Linked DNA regions of Homo sapiens. The protein of the gene in region 2 purifies or fractionates together with the protein of the main gene of each other region. This does not show direct contact. Each region holds a gene or a part of one and is shown on either strand. Other genes may lie near its edges.

Region 1 (2,506 bases), on a different chromosome or scaffold from region 2:
AGGACTGTGCAGAAAGGCAGTGCCAACATCCTAGGAACCTGCACCTCCTTTCTGGCCAGTCAACAAATCCACCCATGAGACTTCTCTCCCAGTCCCTCCCAGTCCTGTCTGACCCTTTTCTACATATACAGAGTTAAGTGCCACAAGGAGGCTCATTCTGCACGTGTCCCCGGGGCCTAGAATTCCATTTGGCATGGAGTGAGTGCTCTCTGTATATACTACTTGTGCCATGAAACAATTCTGAGTTCCCCAGGGAGAGCCATCTGCTCCTCTGGAGGCTACCACCTGTCTTCCATCTGAGCTTTTGTCTTCCCGGGTGCCTGAGTCAGCATCTCTGTTATCTGGCCCCTTCTGACCTCCCCTGCCTGCCGAGGGAGGAATGAGTCCATACTGCTCATCACAGCATCCCCAGGGCTCAGCACATAAGTGGGAGCACCGGTCCCTGCTGTCCCAGAGCTACTGTGGCTCCATGCCTGGTGCTCATGGGAAACCACACCTGCACAGGCCCTGGCCTCTTGTGGCCATTGCCTTCAGGACTTCTCCTCTTTCATGCCCCTCTGCATCTGACCCAAGACCCACCTATTTGCCCATCCCCCATCCCCCACCGCTGCCCTTGCCTCATCTCCTGACTCTGGGTGGTCCCCAAAGCCCAGCCCCTTGCTCTGGTCCAAGAGTCAAGGCAGGCCAAGTGCAAAGAAGAGGCTGGGCCAAGGGACACGAGTTGTACTGACTTTATTCCCCTTCATCCTCTCACTCGCATGCCTGCTGTGCCCCATGCTCTGGGGCTGTGGGGTGCCTGTACACGAGCAGTTGTCAATGGTCTCAACACACACCTGGGCATGGCCATTCTGCCACTACCAAGCCCTCTGTGAAGGGCACCGTGGAGACTATGGCAGCATGAGCCAGGGTTGAAGGCTCCCAGAACTGTGGCCACAGGGCTTGAGTTCATCACTCTAGCCACCCATCGCCAGCTGGCCTGAGACCAGAGAGCCCCAAGGAGCCGGGGAGGGGGCAGACCCAGACTCCAGGCCTGAGTTCTAGCCAAACAGGCTGAGAAGTCCAGATGGACGGTGGGACCCCCACAGATCTCCTTGGGAGGGGATGATCCTGCGTCCCCCTTCCCCCAGCCCTGGAAAGTGAGTATGGTGCCCTAGTCGCCTCATTCTGACATCTGGGGGCACATTGTTTTTTTGTGTTGTTTTGTTTTAAATAAAAAGATGTAAAAGCTAGTAAAACAGGAACCCCTATCCATACTGGAACTGCTGAGGTGCCATTATTGCTTCTGGCCTTGTGGTCTGGCCGGAAAGGAGCCCCCACCAACAATGGCCCAAGTGAAGAGAGTGCTTAGCACCAGGGACACAGGCTCCTATCCCCAGTGGGGCAGGGGCCTCCCAGGAGAGGGGTTGGTTGTGCCCACCTAGAGCTCCCGTGACCGTCTTGACCAGCTGTCAAGCTGTCTGGTCAGCTGTCTGGACCCCTCACCTGATCCCAGAGGGGAAGTGTACAAGAACATGAAACCCATGTCCCAGGACAGGGTTTCATTGCCAGCTCCCCACCAGTGTCTCTGACCTCTGCTTGTCAGTATGGCCTGACAGGTCTCAGCCTGGCCACGGCCACTCAGGCCTACTCAGGCTGTAGTGGGGCCAGCAGGTGATGACACCACCAGTGCCTGTGGGAGATCCTGGTGCCAGTGATGGGGGTTGGAAACCCATGGAGGACCCTGCCTACAGCCCACTGGGAGAGATCAACTTTTTTTGGGAAAATGTGAGCCAGCTCCAAAGAGCTGCCAGGCACTGGGACTAGAGATTAAAAATAGCAACAGGGAGGGGGGGACCCTGAGGACATCACGGAAGCCCAAAGATCAAGGAGTGCAAGGAAGAAAAAGAGCTACAGTAAAGCAGGAGCCTGGAGTCCCCAGCCTTGGGGTGGGGGTCCTGACCAGAAGCCTTCTTCCTCGGGGAGGGGCGAACCTTCTCTCCCCCAGGACAGCAGGAGCGCCTGAGCGTACGTCTACAGCTCCAACATCAATTGGGCAAGGAAGCTGCTGGCACTGTACCCTCCAAGCCCAGAGAACAACCAGGGTGGTGTGGCTTGGATTATAAATCCTCAGATCACTCGGGCACCTTGGGCCTGCCCAAATCTGTACAGAATAAAGTGCTTCGTTTATTGATGATTAAAATGTCCCCAGCTCCCTGCCCCAGTGCCATGGGCCTCATAAGGTCAGAGGGGTTCAGTCCCCCTAACCATTCCCCCGGGGCCCAAGCCTCTTCCCACTCCAGCCATGCTGGGAAGGCAATAGTGTCGGGGAGTGGTGGGGGTTTAAGGTGCAAAGAGTATAACAAACAAAACTGTATAAACACAATAGGAAAGAGCTTAACTAGGAAACATGTAGCTTATGGAACCTTCCTCCCCATATTAAAGGCAGGAATAAAGACATTAAATGACAACAAAAAAGGGTTTCCTATTAGTGCTAGCCTCATGGGGGCAAGCAATTGGGTCTAGGCTG
Region 2 (4,545 bases):
CTGGAGTGCAATGCAGTGATCTCAGCTCACCACAACCTCCATCTCCCAGATTCAAGCTATTCTCCTGCTTCAGCCTCCCGAGTGGCTGGGGTTACAGGCATGCACCACCACTCCTGGCTAATTTTGTATTTTTAGTAAAGATGGGGTTTTGGTTTCTCCACATTGGTCAGGCTGGTCTCGAACTCCCCACCTCAGATGATCTGCCTGCCTCGGCCCCCCAAAGTGCTGGGATTATAGGCGTGAGCCACCGTGCCCAGCCGAATAATTTTTAATAAATACATAGAAAAGGTTTGTCGAAAACAAAACCAGAGATGAAGAAAATAGTGAAATATTTCAAACCATGTTGCATACCAACTGTGTGAATTTTGTATTTAAAATTGTTTAGGCCAAGCATAATGGCTCATGCCTATAATCCTAACACTTTGGGAACCCAGGAGGATCGCCTGAGGCCAGAAGTTCCAGACCAACCTGGGCCACATAGTGAGACCGCATCTCTACAAAAAAAAAATTTTAATTAGCTGGACATGGTGGTGTGTGCCTATGGTCCCAGCTACTCAGGAAGCTAAGGTGGGAGGATCAAGTTAGCCCAAGATTCAGAGGTTGTCGTGAGCTATGCACCACTGCATTCCAGCCTAGTCAACAGAGAGAGACCCTGTCTCTAAAGACTACAAATAAAAAATTGTTATTGAAAACAGAATTACCATTCCACCCAGTAATCCCATTACTGGGTATCTGCCGAAAGGAAAAGAAATCATTATACTAAAAAAGACACTCACATTCTGTTTTTTTTTCTCTCTCTGAGACAGGGTCTAACTCTGTCACTTGGGCTGCAGTGCGGTGGCGCAATCTCAGCTCACTGCAACCTCCACCTCTGATCTCAGCTCACTGCAACTTCCACCTCCCGGGTTCAAGTGATTCTCCTGCCTCAGCCTCCTAAGTAGCTGAGATTACAGGTGTGCACCACCACGCCCAGTTAATTTTTTGCCTTTTTAGTGAAGACAGGGTCTCGCTATATTGGCCAGGCTGATCAACTCCCAGCCTCAATTGATCCACCTGCCTCAGCCTCCCAAAGTGCTAGGATTACAGGCATGAGCCACCACGCCTGGCCTCTTTTTTCAATTTCTTTTTTTGAGACGGGGTTGGGGGGGGTCTCACTCTGTCACCCATGCTGGAGTACAGTGGCATGATCTCAGTTCACTGCAACCTCTGCCTCCTGGGACCAAGCAATCCTCCCACCTACAGGCACACCACACCCGGCTAATTTTTGTATTTTTTGTAGAGACACGAGGGTTTTACCACATTGCCCAGGCTGGCTGCAAACCCCTTTTAAATGCACGTTAGTGTGAATAATTAAAAAACTGCTGAGTTCAAAATATGATCATATGTCATCTTTTTATTTGCTATTAGTAGATAAAGACAGTTTAACTTAGCCTTAGTTCAAAAGTACCTTCTGGAGAAACTAAGTTACTTAGGTTTTGTTTTGAAGCAGTTTGAAAATCACATTAGAAATAAATACAGTAATCCACCTGGACAACATGTCGGTATCCCATCTCCACAAAAAATACAAAAATTAATCGGGTGGTGGTGCACGCCTGAGGTCCCAGCTACTCGGAGGCCGAGGCGGGAGGATGGTTTGGGCCTGGGAGGTGGAGGCTGCAGAGAGCGATGATTGCGCTACTGCACTCCAGCCTGGATAAGAGGGAGACCCCGTCTAAAAAAAAAAAAAAGAAGAAAGACAAAGAAATAAAAACAGTAAGCGATTCCCACATAAACGCACTGCTTTGAGGCACTGAAAAATAATCAGCATATTTCTTCAGTTTTGCTAAAGCCTAAGCAATGTTATTGCGCACTTGGGGAATAGAAAGAGTTTAGGGGTGTGCAAAAATCTCGGGAAAATAAAACTTTTTCGAAGGGAACCAACGGGTTCCATCCCCTAAATACTGCACGAGGCTGCCCAAAGATCCCCGTGTGATATTTTTTAATTATGGAAGATAATTACATTCCTCAGAGCTAACCGAGATTCCACCACACAGGATTGTGTAGAAACTCCTGCTTTATTTATGCACAAGCTCGATCACATGATGCAGGAGCTCTCCACTGGTGGGGGTTGGGGGCTCTGGGATACACTGCGAGGGTCCCACTCCCGGCTCTGTACGGCCTATGGTGTGTCCGTGCACAATGACGGCCTGGGCCTCCATTTGCTCCTCCGTGAAGTGGGCGTCAGACGTTTCCCACGGCCCCTCGGTCCTTGGTGAGAGCTAAAAGGAGACAATGTGTGTACAACGCGCAGCACCCGGCCCAGCAGTCTCCAGCTGCCCGGTCCCACGATGGGGGCCGCCCGGGCGGGCAGTCACCCGTGGCTCCGAGGCAGCCGCCCGCCCCCGGCTCGGGGGAACCGGACCCTGCCTCCTCCCCGCCGCGCCGCGCCGCGCCGCCAGCCGGCTGCTCCCGCCCGGCCCGGCCCCGCCCGCGCAGCGCCCCTCGCAGCTGCCCAGCCTGGGAGCGCTCGACGTCCCGGCTCCGCCGGGCAACCCGGGGCGTGCAGGGGGAGCTCCACCCCGGAATCTTGGAGGTCCCCGGGCTCCCTCGGGCCGGGCAGGCCCCACAGGCGGCCGCGGGCGGGCGGGCGAGGGCGGCGGGCCGGGTCCCCTGCACCAAGGAGGCCGGGCTCCGCAGTCCCCAGTCCAGGCCCAACAGGGAGGGGGCCGCGCCCTCCTCATGCGGTCGGCGCCGGGGGCCGCGGGAGCCCGGGCTGCCCCGGGCCGAGGTGGAGCAGAGGCAGAACCAGGGTGCGGGCTTCCAGGCAGGGCGCCTACGTCCTCACCGATCAGCCCGACTCCAAGCATCAGCTGAGTGTCCGCCACCTCGGCCGCAGCCATCTTCCGCCGCCGCGGCGCGCAGCTCTGGCTGCCGCCTGCAGGACCGGCCTCGCACCCGAACCCCGCCCCGCCCGCCGTAGGGCCCGCCCCCATCACAGGCCCCGCCTCCCTCCCCGGCCCATCATAAGCCCCGCCTCCCTCCCCGGACCATCACAGGCCCCGCCTCCCGCTGTAGGACCCGCCTCCCTCCCGCCCCGCCCCATCACAGGACCATCAACCCCCCCCGTCGGCCCCGCCCCACCCGCAGGCCCACCTATTCCAGCCCCAGTCCTCCCTGCCAGGACCTGCTCAGTGCAGCTCCACTCGTCTTCTGCCCGTGGCCCTTCGCCCTTGGAAACCTCCTTGAGTCTCCGCAGCCTGCCTCAATTTCTCTAATCCAGCTGTTCATCCTTCTTCTTCTCAATCCACTCCAATCTTTCTTCCCGTCGTAGGCTTTCCTTGTTCTACCTCTGCCCTCTGGTCAAGCTCAAAAGAACAGGTCACCTTGTTCCTAAAAAGAGGCGTCCTGAGGATGGAGGAAGGGTCTCCATCCATTCCTTCATCCAGCCACCCCCAAAACAAAACAAAACAAAAATTGAGGGCCTAATAAGGCACTGGGGATACCTTATAGGGCTGAACAAGACAGAGCAGTCCACTGGGGAAGACAGACAATTGGCGAGTAGAATAAATAATCCAGGCCAGGTGAGGTGGCTCACGCCTCTGATCCCAACACGATGGGAGGCCAAGGCAGGAGCATCACTTGAGGTCAGGAGTTCGAGATCAGCCTTGGCAACATAGTGAGACCCATCTCTACAAAAAAAATTTAAAAATTAGCCAGGCATAGTGGCATGCACCTGTAGTCCCAGCTACTCTCAGGCTGAGGCAGGAAAATCATTTGAGCCCAGGATTTTGAGGCTGCAGTGAGCTGTGATCCTGCCACTCACTCCAGCCTGGGTGACAGAGTGAGACCCTGTCTCAAAAATAAATAAATAGATAAATAGATGACAGATAGATAGATAATAGTAAAAAAGCTCAGAATGATATGTGCCCTGGAGGCAACGATATGTGCCCTGGAGGCAGTGTGTTAGAGAGTGGAGGTGTGCTGCTCTAAAATGGGTGTCAAGAAAGGCTTCTCTGAGAAAGGGATATTTGAACTGAGATCTGAATGATAGTAACGACTCAGACATTGGAAGATTTGGCTCCAAGATTCCTCCTCTGGATCTACTGTCTGCCCCAACCCCAAGTCACACAGAGCTAATTAGGGAGGGTCCTTGGTGTCTGCAGGAATACAATCCCACCCTCATCTTTTTTTCTTTTTTCTTTTTTTTTTTTTTTTTTTGAGATGGAGTCTTGTTCAGTTGCCCGGCCTGGAGTGCAATAGCGCGATCTCGGCTCACTGCAACCTCCGCCTCTCGGTTTTAAGGGATTCTCCTGCCTCAGCCTCCTGCGTAGCTGGGATTACAGGCGTGAGCCACTGCGCCTGTTTTTTTCTTTTTTCTTTCTTTTTTTTTTGGAGACAGTTTCTCGCTATGTTGCCCAGGCTGCAATTTATACATTGGAGTATATTTAGGTGTGTATATGGCATTCCTGTTTCTCTCACTAAACTGAACCCCTGGAAGGCAGCACCCTGAACTACGTGCCCTTCTATTCTCTGGGCTTCCTGTTGTAGTATAACTGTTAATGTGTC

Evidence for each region.
Region 1: the proteins of DENND10 (region 2) and ZBTB47 purify together in Homo sapiens (affinity purification with mass spectrometry; one large-scale study listed by BioGRID and IntAct). This does not show direct contact.

The regions. Positions count from the first base shown.
Region 1 is NC_000003.12:42,665,790-42,668,295, reverse strand, and holds the end of ZBTB47 (zinc finger and BTB domain-containing protein 47), read right to left. Parts: 3' UTR 716-2,506; downstream 1-715. UniProt on the Homo sapiens protein: May be involved in transcriptional regulation.
Region 2 is NC_000010.11:119,102,477-119,107,021, reverse strand, and holds the start of DENND10 (DENN domain-containing protein 10), read right to left. Parts: upstream 2,910-4,545; 5' UTR 2,880-2,909; coding exon 2,825-2,879; intron 2,258-2,824; exon of another isoform or gene 2,000-2,257; intron 1,712-1,999; exon of another isoform or gene 1,538-1,711; coding exon of another isoform or gene 1,527-1,537; intron 1-1,526. UniProt on the Homo sapiens protein: Guanine nucleotide exchange factor (GEF) regulating homeostasis of late endocytic pathway, including endosomal positioning, maturation and secretion, possibly through activating Rab proteins such as RAB27A and RAB27B.